Regions from separate parts of the Homo sapiens genome. Here region 1 is linked to region 2. Evidence: fine-mapped expression QTL. Tissue or cell type: whole blood. Region 2 holds a variant in brackets; the other region holds the start of a gene. All regions are shown on one strand. Distances are between the middles of the regions.

Region 1 (6,395 bases), 120 kb after region 2:
GTGGAGGAAGGTGCGGGGTGATGAAACAGAGACAGGGCCCCTGGGCCTGGAAAAACATAAGGCAGTGAGGGCCTATGGGGGCACAGTGGGAGTGGATGGGAGCCTCTGAGGCACTTGCTGATCCTGGCTGCTTGGGTGGAAAGCTGTAAACAGCCAAAGAATGTTGTCTGCTTGCATGGAGCCAGGAGAGCCTGCCCAGGTCCTCTAAGGCTAGAGGCAGCTACTCCTGGAGTAGGAAAAGGCCACATCCAGGAAGCCCACGAGCCCAGGCAGGGATCTGTCCTTCCACTTGCCCTCCTGAAGGGCCCTGCGGCTCCCACTGGCCCCTGTTATTTACCTGCCAGCTGGCCAGGCCAGGCCAGGTATACCAGGTCCTCAGGCTCAGGAAGGAGGGGCATAGCCCCACTTCCACTTCCAGGGGACTTGGAGATGTGCCCCCCACCTCTGTCCTTGCTTGGCTGGAGGCATCCAGGGCTGGGCAACAGAACTGCAACACTTGAAATGCCCACACTGCCCCATCAGCCTTGGGAGGTGGTAGGAAAATGCCTTTTGCGGGGATGGAAGGATCAAAGCCCATTCTCAAGCCCTGGTATATTCACTCAGGTGGACTTCAGGGCTCCACTCTGCCACTGTCAACATACAGTCCCTCCAGAGAAGTACCCCTCATGTTACAAATGGGGCACGTTCACCAGACTCAGCTTCAGGACAAGACCCCAGGTCATTCCCAACTGAGGCTCCGAGGTGCAGGAGCTCCGTCCTGTCTGTAAAACTCCCTCAGTTTTCGGCTCTGGGTTTGGTGGGGGTTGTTCCTCCCACCTCCAACCTAGAAAGAGAAGCCAGAGGAAGGGAGGTCACATGGTCTGCCCCCCAACCTCTCAGCAGAGATGCAAAGCTACCTGTCCAGGATGGCGGACTCCAGATGGGCCCCGCCCTGTGGTGCAGAAGTGAGATTTGCTGCTCCTCCTGCGTCTGCCCCTCTCCTGCCCTCCTCTCCCTCCCCTATCTGGCTGTCATGGTAGAAGCCACTGCTGGCCAGGCCACTGAAGTACTAAGTGGCCCAAGTGTTGAGGAAGGATGGGGACTGGGTCCTGAGGGCCCATCCGACCTCCAGTTGAGAGCCCCTCCCCTGACCTCCAGCTGCCCGGCCACCCCAGCCGGTCCCTGGGAACTGAGGTGGCAGCTGAGCTCCCCATTATCTTTCCCCACAGCTCCCCACCTGTGGAGGGAGAGGTTGAGATATTGGAGTCCACGGGTGGTGCCCCCACTCAGTGATTCCCTTTGCCTGCTGAGCCCCTGGAGCTGGGGTTTCTTCCTCCCTTGCCTTGGCTGGCCACCTGGCTTCTGGGACCGCCACCTGGGGCACCCTTCTGCTTTAAGGCCCAATATGGGAGGGGTCGTCCCTACCAGCCCCTCCCTTGTGCCCATTCCACTCCCGCCTGGCTGCCGTCTCCAGCTGGTCCCGGCTGCCTGCCCGGTCACCCGATCCGCCCTCTAAACTTTACGGCACGGCGGGCGGTGCGTGGGGCGGTGGCTGGCCTGGTGGGGGCGGGGGCTGCTTCTTAAAGGAGCCGTCAGAGGGTCCCCAGCGGCCCCAGGGTGGGAAGGGGCCAGAGTGGAGAGATGCTGCTGCGGAAGTCCTCGGTGGAGTGTGAGAAGGCAGCCAGTGTTGGCCTGGAAGACCTCTAGAACCTGAGAAGAGGCAGCGGCAAGTGTCAGCGGAGGGAAGGAGGGAGGTGGGGGTCCTGGCCTGGGATGGGGCCAGGAGCTGGGCAGGAGTGTGGGTGGAGGGGCCTGGAACCTGCCTCAGCAGCTGCTCCACTTGCTTAATCCCACCTGGAACCTTGTCCCACTCCCTGGGCTCCTGTGTCCAGCACCTGCCCAGCTGACCCCTGGGAAGGAGGGTGGGCATAGCAGCCAGGTCTTTGCCCCAGCTGAGGGCCAGGGGGAGGTGTCTGGCTCCTAGAGTGAAGGGGCTCAAAGATGGGGAAGAACTCAAGGGGTGAGAGAAGTGAAGGGAGAGGCTCAGAGAGGCTGTGGAGGCGTTGAGAGGGAAGGCCAGCTCAGCGAGGCCAGGAGGCTGGGGTGCAAATGAAGGGCTGCCTCACCTTGCCCCTCTTTGATTCCTCAGGGGTGTGGAGAGAGAGCCCTCAAGCTCAAATGCAGAGGCTGCTTCAGCTGGGTTGGGAGCAGTCCCCAAGTCAGAGGCTGAGGCTTCTGCCCAGGTCTTGGGTCTCCTGGGTAGCACTTCTCCCTCTGAGGAATGGAGTGATTGATGCTGCAGTTGGATTTGCTCACTTGCATGCCCAGAGACATGTCTATTCTTATGGGTGCACACGTTTGCACATGCACAAATGTGCAACACATCTGTGTGCAAAATATGCACATATCACACATATGTACTGCATGGATTGCACAGTGCCACATGTGTGTGCACACCAACCCATATCCACACATGTGCAATATGACACACTATATATTTGCACATAGATGTGCACACACATGCACATACACACTACACACATGCGCACATCACAAGGGGACACTCGGAAACACATTCACAGGCACCCACACCCTTGGCTCCAGCCTCAAAAGTGTCTCTGTGTTTTTCTGCGGGACTGTGGGGACACTGCCACCTCCAGAGGCCTGACCCCCTCCTGTCACTCTCACTCTTTTGACTGGCTTGTTTTGCTCATTGCACTTGGCACCCTCTGCATCCATCTGATTCCTTGTTGGCACTCTGTCCCCTTTCACATGGGGACCTTGTCTATGTCTCCCAGTATCCCTCCTCCCAGGTCTAGGCTGGCATGAAGTGGGTGGCACATTGTGAATTAATGTCTGTGAGTGTGTATACAAGAGAGGAGATTACTGGGAAGGGTGACGTGGTGAGGCGGGCTTGCCAGTGCAGGGTGACCCTGAGGGTGTGCCCAGTGGCGTGGGTGTGTCTGTGATTGTGGCCAGGCGGGGCACCCTCGGAGGGGAGGGTTCGGAAGTGGAATGCGACCCCCCAGCCTCTTTCCCCTAGGGGCTGTAATCTGATCCCTGGGGACTCCCCCCCTAGCCTCCCGCCCTCGCCCTCACTGCTGACTCCTCTTCCAGATCCTGGGGCAGAGTCCAGGGCAGCTCAAGGCTCCTCCACACACACACCCGCTGAACCCTGAGCACCCTGAGCTGCTGAGATGGGGCGGGCCGGGGCTGCCGCCGTGATCCCGGGCCTGGCCCTGCTCTGGGCAGTGGGGCTGGGGAGTGCCGCCCCCAGCCCCCCACGCCTTCGGCTCTCCTTCCAAGGTAGGTGCACCTGGCAGGCGGGAGGGCCCAGCTTGAGGTGGGCAGGAAAGGGTCCCCGTATGGCCAGGGGGCTCTGTGTTGGCTGTTGCCCCATGTGCGTGCCTGTCACCAGACTCTGGTAGGATTAGTGGGCACTCTCAGGCCACCTCCAGTTAACCCTGTCCGGGCCTCAGCCCCCAGCCTCTGCCCACATTCTCTTCGTGCTTTCTCAGGAAGACCCCTCCTGTCCCCACAGCAACAGACCTTGTCTCTGTTCCGTTCAGTACCCCCAACAAGGCGATACTCCTTCAGCAGAGCAACAGGGAAGTCAGAGCCCCCTTCTCATGCCTCCTGTATAGGAGGGTGGCCCCTGGGCAGTGGCAGTGAATAGGCAGTTCTGCTGAGCTCAGGCTGGTGGTGGAGTGGCAGGAAAGGAACTCTCAGCCTGACTTTTGGGAGTTGGGGTTCTGGCCATCCCTGCATGCCAGTCTCCCCCAGGACTCTGGTGTCCATAAGCCTTGCCTCCCAGTGCGCCCGCCTGGAGACACCACCTGTCTGAGCATGCCCAAGTTCAACCTGCCTTCCTCTTCCTGGGGGGATGTACCACCTACCCTGGCAGCTCCACACGTGCACCTGGGTGGGCTTGGGTTTGCGTGTGTAAACTCACACACATGTAAACTCACATGTGTACAGGCCAGGTCCTAATGGCAACCTTGGCCGATAGAGTCACCACCAGGCAGGACCTGGGGGAGGCTTCCAGCATGGCTGGCGAGTCATCAGCAGTGTCCTGCCCTGCAGAGCTCCAGGCCTGGCATGGTCTCCAGACTTTCAGCCTGGAGCGAACCTGCTGCTACCAGGCCTTGCTGGTGGATGAGGAGCGTGGACGCCTGTTTGTGGGTGCCGAGAACCATGTGGCCTCCCTCAACCTGGACAACATCAGCAAGCGGGCCAAGAAGGTGCCAGGGACTCCCAACCCCAGCACTCCCCAGGGAAGGAGCCCTGGGACCCCACTCCAGCCTGGAGAGACCCAGAGGAATGGCTCCCTGAGGTAGAGAATATCCCAAGTTCCTGACCTGTGTCCCCTCTCCCCCAACCTCCCGATAGCTGGCCTGGCCGGCCCCTGTGGAATGGCGAGAGGAGTGCAACTGGGCAGGGAAGGACATTGGTGTGAGTGCCAGCTGCCCGGGCCGGGAGTGGGGAGGGTCAGCCCCTCACCCCAGAGACAGGGCAGGGCTAAAACAGAGGCCTGCCTGTTCTGGCTGGGATGAGGGCAGGGAGGTCGAGGTGGCTGAGGTCTGGGGGTGGTGAGTCAGGGTGGGGGCTCGTGTAATTCTTCTGGGGTGCCTCTGAGTCATGGGAGGCTTTGCAGGCCTGTGCTTCCCCAGACACCCACCCTCGTGAGGCCTGGGCTGGTCAGCAAGGGCCCCCAGGTCCCTGTAGCCCATGTTAGTACTTGCCTGGGCTGATGCCGAAGAGAGGGAGGGGTGAGGATGCCACTGGTGAGCTGGGACCTCTTAAGGCTACGTCCCTGGGGGAAGCCTCACACCTCCAACCCTACTAGACTGAGTGCATGAACTTCGTGAAGTTGCTGCATGCCTACAACCGCACCCATTTGCTGGCCTGTGGCACGGGAGCCTTCCACCCAACCTGTGCCTTTGTGGAAGTGGGCCACCGGGCAGAGGTAAGGCCGGATCTAGGCAGGGAGGGAGGTCAGGAGGGTAAGAAGGGCCTGGTAGTCACAACTTGCCACACCTCCCAGGAGCCCGTCCTCCGGCTGGACCCAGGAAGGATAGAGGATGGCAAGGGGAAGAGTCCTTATGACCCCAGGCATCGGGCTGCCTCCGTGCTGGTGGGTGAGTCCAAGGGCTAAGGCCCCAAGAGAACCCCTTAGAAACTCTAGAACCTCACAAAGTCCCAAGACCCCCAAGAGCTCCAGGGAATCCCCCATAACCTCACTCACTCCCAGAGCTCCCCAGGCCCTCCTGCCCCAAGAGCCCTCCATTTGCCTGAGTGGCCCTTGCTCTGTCTGCAGGGGAGGAGCTATACTCAGGGGTGGCAGCAGACCTCATGGGACGAGACTTTACCATCTTTCGCAGCCTAGGGCAACGTCCAAGTCTCCGAACAGAGCCACACGACTCCCGCTGGCTCAATGGTGAGAGGCTGGTGGGGTTGGTGGGTAGAGGTCGTCACCCTCCCACAGGGCAGGTGCCAAGCAAGGCCCATAAAGTAAGTGAGCAGTGGGTGTGGCCAGGTCTTACCAAATACCCTCCTTAATCAGGCACTGGCGTCACAGAGACAGACAAGACAGGTATGACCGTGACCTCTTTGAGTTCACAGATCACATACATGATAAGATCAAGTCCAATGGCCTTGAGGCCAGAGAGAGACAAGGGAGGAAGGGAAAAGGAGACTGGGTGGCTGGAGGGGGTTGGGTAAAGGAAGCCGCTGTGCTGAGGGGAGTATGAGCTAATTCCCAAGCACAAGACAGCTAGCCAGCAAAATTTAGGGATGAGCATTCCAGGCAGAGGGAGCATTCCAGGCAGAGGGAGCAACTAGTGCAAAGGCCTGGATGCAAGAACAAGCAAAGGAATAGACTTGCAGAGCTAGCAATGAAAAGGGGGCCTGGACTGTCAGGGGCCAGAGTCATTTATTCTAAGAGTCATGGGGGCTGGGCACAATGGCTTGCACCTGTAATCCCAGCACTTTGGGAGGCTGAGGCAGACAGATTGCTTGAAGACAGGAGTTTCATACCAGCCTGGGCTACAAAGCAAGACAAAAAATAAAATAAAATTAGCTGGGGGCAGTGGCATGCACACACCTGTAGTCCTGGCTAGTCAGGAGGCTGAGATGGAAGGATCACTTGAGCCCAGGAGTTGGAGGCTGCAGTGAGCCATGATGCTGCCACTGCAGGACAGAGCAGACCCTGTCTCTAAATCAAATAAAAATTAAATAAGGGCTATGGGCTGGTGGGCACAGTGGCTCACACCTGTAATCTCAGCACTTTGGGAGGCGGAGGCAGGCAAATCGCTTGAGGCCAGGAGTTTGAGACTAGCCTGGCCAACATGGTGAAACCCTGTCTCTACTAAAAAATACAAAAATTGGCCGGGTGCAGTGGTGTGCACCTGTAATCC
Region 2 (7,460 bases):
CTTTCTTTTTCTTTCTTCTTTCTTTCTTTCTTTCTTTTCTTTCTCTCTCTTCCCTCATTCCTTCCCTCCCTCCTTCCTTCCTTGTTTTCTTTCCTTTTCTTTTCTTTCTTTCTTTCTTTCTTTCTTTCTTTCTTTCTTTCTTTCTTTCTGTCTCTCTCTCTCCCTTCCTTCCTTCCTCTTTCTTTTTTCTTTTTTTTTTTGACAGAGTCTCACTCTCTCGCTCAAGCTGGAGTGCACTGGGCTCACTGCAACCTCTGCCTCCCAGGTTCAAGCAATTCTCCTGCCTCAGCCTCCCGAGTAGCTGAGACTACAGGCGTGCGCCACCAAGCCCAGCTAATTTTTGTATTTTTAGTAGAGACAGGGTTTCACCATGTTGGCCAGGCTGCTCTTGAACTCCTGACCTCAGGTGATCCACCTGCCTCGGCCACCCAGAGTGCTGGGATTACAGGCGTGAGCCACTGCGTCTGGTCTCTCTCTTTCTCTTTCTGTCTCTTTCTTTTTCTTTCTTTCTTTCTTTGTCTCTCTCCTTCCTTCTTTCCTTCCTTCCTTCCTCCCTCCCTCTCTTCCTTACTTTCTCTCTCTTTCTTTCTTTCCTTTCTTCCTTCCTTCCTTCCTTTCTTTCTCTCTTTCTCTCTTTCTTCTTTCTTTCATTTTTGAGAAGGATTCTTGCTCTGTCCCTAGGCTGGAGTGCAGTGGTGCAATCTCGGCTCACTGCAACCTCTGCCTCCCGGCTTCAAGCAATTCTCCTGCCTCAGGCTTCCAAGTAACTGAGACTACAGGTGCCCACCACCACACTCAACTAATTTTTGTATTTTTACTAGAGACAGGGTTTCACCATGTTGGCCAGGCTGGTCTTGAACTCCTGACCTCAAGTGATCTGCCCACTTCTGCCTCCCAAAGTGCTGGGATTACAGGTGTGAGCCACCACGCCCAGCCCCAGCCTCATGATTCTGATGTTTGGGTAGGTCGAGTAAGGCCTGGTGAGGTCTGAAGAGCCCTGTGGACAGCAAGGCCAGAGCTGCAGGGCTTCCACCTCTGCCCAGGCTCCACACTTCTTTTTCTTTTTCTTTTTTTGAGATGGAGTCTCGCTCTGTCTCCCAGGCTGGAATGCAGTGGCGCCATCTTGGCTCACTGCAAGCTCCGCCTCCTGGGTTCACGCCATTCTCCTGCCTCAGCCTCCCGAGCAGGTGGGACCACAGGCGCCCGCCACCACGCCCGGCTAATTTTTTTGTATTTTTAGTAGAGACAGGGTTTCACCGTGTAAGCCAGGATGATCTCGATCTCCTGACCTCATGATCCACCCGCCTTGGCCTCCCAAAGTGCCGGGATTACAGGCATGAGCCACCGTGCCCGGACTTCTTTTTTTTTTTTTAAGACGGAGTCTCACTCTGTCACCAGGATGGAGTGCAGTGGCGTGATCTCGTCTCACTGCAACCTCCACCTCCTGGGTTCAAGCGATTCTCCTGCCTCTGCCTCAGCCTCCCAAGTAGCTGGGACTACAGGCATGTGCCACCACACCCAGCTAATGTTTTGTATTTTTAGTAGAGATGGAGTTTCACCATGTTGGCCAAGATGGTCTCAATCTCTTGACCTCATGATCCACCTGCCTTGGCCTCCCAAAGTGCTGGGATTACAGACATGAGCCACCATGCCCGGCTTAGGCTCCACACTTCTGAGAGGCTCAGGTTTCCCTAGATGCCAGGCCCTTTTCTGCCTGGAGTCTATCTCCCAGCCCTTACAGGACCTCTCCAAGGTGTGGGGTCTGGGTGGAGCCCGGGTCCTTAGGCATTCAAATTCCCCTAACTCTAGGCCATCAAAATCTCCCCTTCTGCCTTTCTGAGGTGGCTCCCATCTCTCAGCTCTAGGCCTGTAGGCCTTGCCTACCACTATTCCAAGACAATTTTGTTGAAATTTCAGGCCAAATTGGGGTGGAGAAATCAGTCTCTGTGGCTGGTGCCAACACAGGGTTGGGAGGACATGAGGTTGCAGAATGAATGAATGACATCTTTTTTTTTTTTTTTTTTTTTGAGATGGAGTTTCCCTCTTTTTGCCCAGGCTGGAGTGCAGTGGTGCAATCTCAGTTCACCACAACTTCCGCCTCCCGGGTTCAAGAGATTCTCCTGTCTCAGCCTCCCGAGTAGCTGGGATTATAGGCATGTGCCACCACGCCCAGCTAATATTTGTATTTTTAATAGAGACGGGGTTTCTCCATGTTGGCCAAGCTGGTCTCGAACTCCCGACCTCAGGTGATCTGCCACCTCAGCCTCCCAAAGTGCTGGGATTACAGGCGTGAGCCACCACACCCAGCATGAATGAATGACATATGACCAAGACACAGTGCATTTGAACCAGGCCAGAAGGACCAGGAGAACCCCGCTAGGGAGACAGGGAAAGGCATTCCTGGTGGGAGAATAGCCTAGGCAAAGGCTTGAGGGCAACATGATAGAAGACATGATGAGGGGTGGCCCTTCAGAAACCATAGAGTGACCTGAGGGCCTCCAGGCCCTGAGGTTTGCCTGGGAGCCCCTCCAGAGATCCCCCTGCTGCCTCTGCCTCGGCCACAAAGCAGGCCAACTGTGCTTTGCTTGTTCTGACTCCGACCTTCCACGCAGACCTTTCAGGGCCCCTGTCTCCCTATCTGTCAAGTGGTATCTTTGTCTGCAGTCTGGCCTGTACCGGGTGAGGGTCTCTGCCTGGGAAGATGTGGAGGCCTCATCCTGGGCCTGTGGGGACAGCATGGGTAGGGTTGGGTTCTCTAGAGTCTAGGACCCACAGCCACGCAGTCCCATCTTTCTTGGCGGGGGGTGTCCTTGATCAGTAGGTGACAAAGGGAGCAGGAACTGACACCTGTCCAGACAGCTGGGAGCTCCAAGATTCCCCCCACAATAAGCCCCATTGTGAGAAAACTCTAGGAGCAGCTAGGGGGATGTTCAGGGATTCAACACAGAATTTCCTCTAAACTCTGGCTGGTGGCAGGGCTCACATGTCTTGTGTCCCCACCTCAGCCCAGCCCACATGTTTTCCTCTTCCCTACCTGAAAGCCACAGGGTGGTAAGGGTCCAGCCTGGACACCGAGCCAGAGATCTAAGCAGGCCAAGGCCCCAGCACTGGGTCCCCTCTCTGAGCAACTAAAACTCCAGCAAGAAACACCCATGTTGTTGAGAGAATAGGCCCCAGCCAGCACTACCCGGCCCCTCTCTGGAGAACTGGGCCCCCATAGCATAGCCTAGGCCCAACCAGACCCCTGGCTGGGAAACGTGGGTTTCCTGAGGCTATGGTCAACCTAGGGCCTTGGGGTGCTGCCTAAGGTCCCATCTTTGGCCCCC[C/G]CAGCAGGTTATGACCCCTCTTGGTCTGGGGTCCATATGTCCTTGGCTATAGAGGGTACTGACCGCTGGGCACACTCAGCTGGTGGGGCAGCTGGGGCAAGGGAAGGGTGAAGCCTCAGGCAGTCCAGGGAGGGAAGCTGGGGCTGAGCAGGTGATCTGTGGGACCTGTCCCTCAGGGGAATCTGGGAGTGGCAGACCAACCCTGGCCTGGCTCCACCCTCAAATCCAAGCACTGAGACTGGGGGGTTAACACAGCGGGGGTGAATTTCCTCCTGGTTCCAGCCAGTCAGATTTCCACATGCCTCCCCTTCCCTGGGCAGGAGCCGGGCGCACAGAGAGAAGAGGAGCACTGAGGACTGCAGAGGGGAGTGGGGTGGGAAGAGGCTAGGCAACCCGCGGAGGAAGATGGTCCTGGGGGTGCTTTAAAAAAAGACAAGGCGGCCGGTGCAGTGGCTCATGCCTGTAATCCCAGCACTTTGGGAGGCCGAGGTGACAGATCACTTGAGGTCAGGAGTTCTAGACCAGCCTGGCCAACATGGCAAAAATCCATCTCTACTAAAAATACAAAAAATTATCTGGGCGTGGTGACACACACCTGTAATCCCAGCTATTCAGGAGGCAGAGGCAGGAGAATCGCTTGAACCCAGGAGGCAGAGGTTGCAGTGAGCCGAGATCACACCACTGCACTCCAGCCTGGGCGACAGAGCGAGACTACGTCTCAAAGACAAAAGAAAAGAGGCTGGGCGCAGTGGCTCATGCCTGTAATCCCAGCACTTTGGGAGGCCAAGCAGGTGGATCACGAGTTTAGGAGTTCAAGACCAGCCTGACCAACATGGTGAAAACTGGTCTCTACTAAAAATACAAAAATTATCTGGGCTTGGTGGCGTGCACCTGTAATTCCAGCTACTCGGGAGGCTGAGGCAGGAGAATCGCTTGAACCTGGGAGGCGGAGGTTGCAGTGAGCCGAGATCGTGCCATTGCACTCCAGCATGGATGACAGAGCGAGACTCTGTCTCAGAAAAAAAAAAAAAAGAAAGAAAGAAAGAAAAAAGAAAAGACAAGGCAGAGGGGCACAGGCCTCAGTTTCCCCTCAGGGACTATGAGGACTCCAAATGTCAGTGGTAGAGGGAGGGTGGTTGTCTCCCTCTGTAGCAGCATTGCCCCTCTGTGCCCTCTACTGGTGTCCTGGGTAACCTGGACCTGTCAAGGGCTGGGCCAGCCAGGGCTGCTGCTTGAGCCCAGAGACTTCCCTGCGAGCTGTGACCATGACTAAGGTAGGGCAGGGGGTGGTACACAGTAGGTGCACAGGCAGGTTGTGGCCACATGAATGCATTCCTCTGGGTGGCAGGAACTAGGTTTCCCTGATTTAGTCTGTGGATGCTGGAGCCAGGCAGGACAGAGTGTGAAGTCTGGATTTATGACCTCTCCCCATGCAGCCCTCCGCAATCCCTTCCTCACCCCTCCTCTGTCTCTTATCCCTCCATCTAGGTTGGTCCCTGCTCCTTCTGGCAGCAAACATGGGCTTTGCAGAAACTTGTCCTGGGATTAAATCTTAAACTGCTGTCTCAGGAGAGTGGGGGAGGGAGACCTACCCAGTGAGCCATGTGTCTGGGGTATATAGAAGCCGGGGAGGAGGCCTCTCTCCCCACCTCAAAACTCCAGATCAGGCCCAATGGATGGGCTTCTAGGGAAGGAGGAGGGAACCTGGCCAAGTCTGAAGGTACCCGGCAGCAGCCCCCGTGCTCTAGGCAGACCCTGTTCTTTCTCTCCTGGATATTCACAGCCTCCTCTCTGGCACCCCAGTAGCCAGGGGGATGTTTTAAAACCTGAAATCTGACTATGGCATATGCCCCATCACCCTCAAGTCAGCCGTTGTCCTTTATTCTTTCAGAGGTTGCAGTCCAACATTCAAGGGGGTCCTAGCCTGGAATCCCCAATAAGGTCATCCAGGCCCTTACTCCTCAAGGTCTCGGCATTCCCCTCTATTAAATGGGTACACAATGATGTTCCAGTCAAGGTGAGCCTGAGGCCTAATTCTTCGCGGGAGTTCACAGATAGCACCGGTGAAGCCTCCAATCCCTGGGTGAAGGGTCAGAAGTCAGGATTGGCCAAGGCCCCCACTCTGCCCAGTCACGTTTGAAAATCAAATCCTAACAGCACAAGAAGGCACCGAAACCCCAGGATAGGAGCACAGACTTGGCCTCACTGACCTACCAACCACAACACAGGGAGCAAAAGGGTTCATCTTTCTAGATGGAGTGCTCAGGAGCAAGCACCAGGCTGGCCAGGGCAGGCCTGGCTCCCCACCCACCTGGTACTGGCCCTGCTTCCCCAACCCTCCTCCAAGGCACTGAAGCCATGTGCTGTAAAGAGGAGATTCTCTGGAGGGAGCACTCCTCATTGGCCAGTCCGGGCACTGCTGTGCACAGAGGTCTTGCTGGTGAAGCCTCTCCAGTTCCTGGCTGGAGGAAGCTGGAGACCAAATAGGATGCTCTGGCCTCAGATCTCTGGTCTGAGATATGAGACAGTGATCTCATATCGCAACTCCTCCTTGGGCATGACCTGGAACCAGGCTTAGGGAGGAGGACCAGGATGACAGGGTGCCCAGTGTCTGCCCACCAGCCCCCCCTCCTTTTGAGGGGCTGCTTTCATCTGGGCCCCACTCCTCTGCTGGGAGCAAGGAACTAGGGGAGGCCACGCCACCGCTGTCATGGAAGGGACATTCCCCAGTCATTTGGAACTAAGTAAGTCCAGATCTCAGCTTGCAGTCCTGGCTGCAGGACCCTCCTCGGGCCCCCCTCCCCCAGGACTGTGGCCACACAGACACATGGAGGGAGTGTGCGCAGCAGATGCAGGCCTGGGAGGCAGCCAGAAACCTCCCAAGATCAGAGCCTGTCACCGCAGCTTTGTCAGGGAGCTGCCTAGGTCTCTCCTAGTCCTGAGGAACACCTCTGCCTAAGGGACTATGCCTGTCCCTGGAGAGCTCACGGTTAAAGCTGCAATGCCTTTTAAGTTAAAGCAGAGTCTATCTTGAGTCCTTGATGCTGCAACTTAAGACCCTCTCTCCTCCATCCACCTCTTCAGCAGTGTGGGGAAACAGCAAATGGGCATCTCTCCATGCCCCATTCTCAGCTCCAGGTAAGGGTGAGAGGGGAAAGCAGCTCACAGCCCCATCGAGTTATTCATTCAATACCTACCACGTGTCTGTCTCCATTCTGGGTGCTGGAGGAGGAGCAATAGATAGACAACAATCTCTGCATTCTTGGTTGGCAGCTTAGCATGAAAATAAGTAAATTATATCGTATGTTGGAATAAGAAAAAGAGAGGGAAGGTAAGGGAAGAAGAGAGGGAAGGTAAGTGGAGATGCAGAATGCTGGAGATGGTGGTGGTCAGGATGGGCATCACTGAGGAGGTAATATCTGAGCAAAGGCCTGAAGGAGGTGAGGGAGAAGCCATGGAGGTGTCTGGGATGGGCATCCAGGCCAAGGGAACGGTTGCTGCAGGGCCCTGAGGCTGGAGTGTGCCTGGAGTGGGAGGAAGAGGGAGGAGGACACAAGTCAGAGAGGTGGGGAAGAGGTGTGCAGGGTGAAGGGGTGTTGATGACCACTCCAAGGATTTGGCTTTGTTTTCTGTTTTAGTTTTTGGTCAAGATGGAGTCTCACTCTGTGGCCCAGGCTGGAGTGCAGTGGTGCAATCACGGCTCACTGCAGCCTCAACCTCCTAGGCTCAAGCAATCCTCCCGCCTCAGCCTCCAGAGTAGCAGGGGCCACAGGCACATACCACCACACCCAGCTAGATTTTTGTAGGTTTTTTTTTTTTTTTTGTGACAGAGTCTTGCTCTGTAGCCCAGGCTGCAGTGCAGTGGCGCAGTCTTGGCTCAATGCAATCCCCGCCTCGCGGGTTCAAGCAATTCTCCTTCCTCGGCCTCCTGAGTAACTGGGATTGATTACAGGCGCAGGCCACCACATCTGGCTAATTTTTGTACTTTTTGGTAGAGATGGGGTTTCACCATATTGGCCCGGCTGGTCTTGAATTCCCGACCTCAAGTGATCTGCCCACCTCGGCCTCCCGAAGTGCTGGGATTACAGGCGTGAGCCATCGTGCATGGCCCAAGGATTTGGCTTTGACTCTCAA

Evidence for each region. PIP is the estimated chance that this variant, and not a neighbour inherited with it, causes the effect.
Region 1: it holds the start of SEMA3B, and the variant in region 2 is fine-mapped to the expression of SEMA3B in whole blood (TOPMed, PIP above 0.99).

The regions. Positions count from the first base shown.
Region 1 is chr3:50,266,065-50,272,459 of GRCh38, forward strand. It overlaps SEMA3B (semaphorin 3B), which reads left to right and starts at 3,083. Exons shown (of 17, transcript NM_001290060.2): 1 at 3,083-3,285; 2 at 4,063-4,220; 3 at 4,369-4,431; 4 at 4,826-4,945; 5 at 5,024-5,117; 6 at 5,297-5,416. The coding sequence starts at 3,177. It overlaps SEMA3B-AS1 (SEMA3B antisense RNA 1), which reads right to left and starts at 1,307. Exons shown (of 2, transcript NR_110702.1): 1 at 1,217-1,307; 2 at 577-823.
Region 2 is chr3:50,141,907-50,149,366 of GRCh38, forward strand. All of the region lies in intron 1 of SEMA3F-AS1 (SEMA3F antisense RNA 1), which reads right to left. Among named protein-coding and RNA genes, the nearest start is that of SEMA3F, 9.7 kb to the right of the region's middle. The variant C/G (reference allele first, on the strand shown) is at 3,327.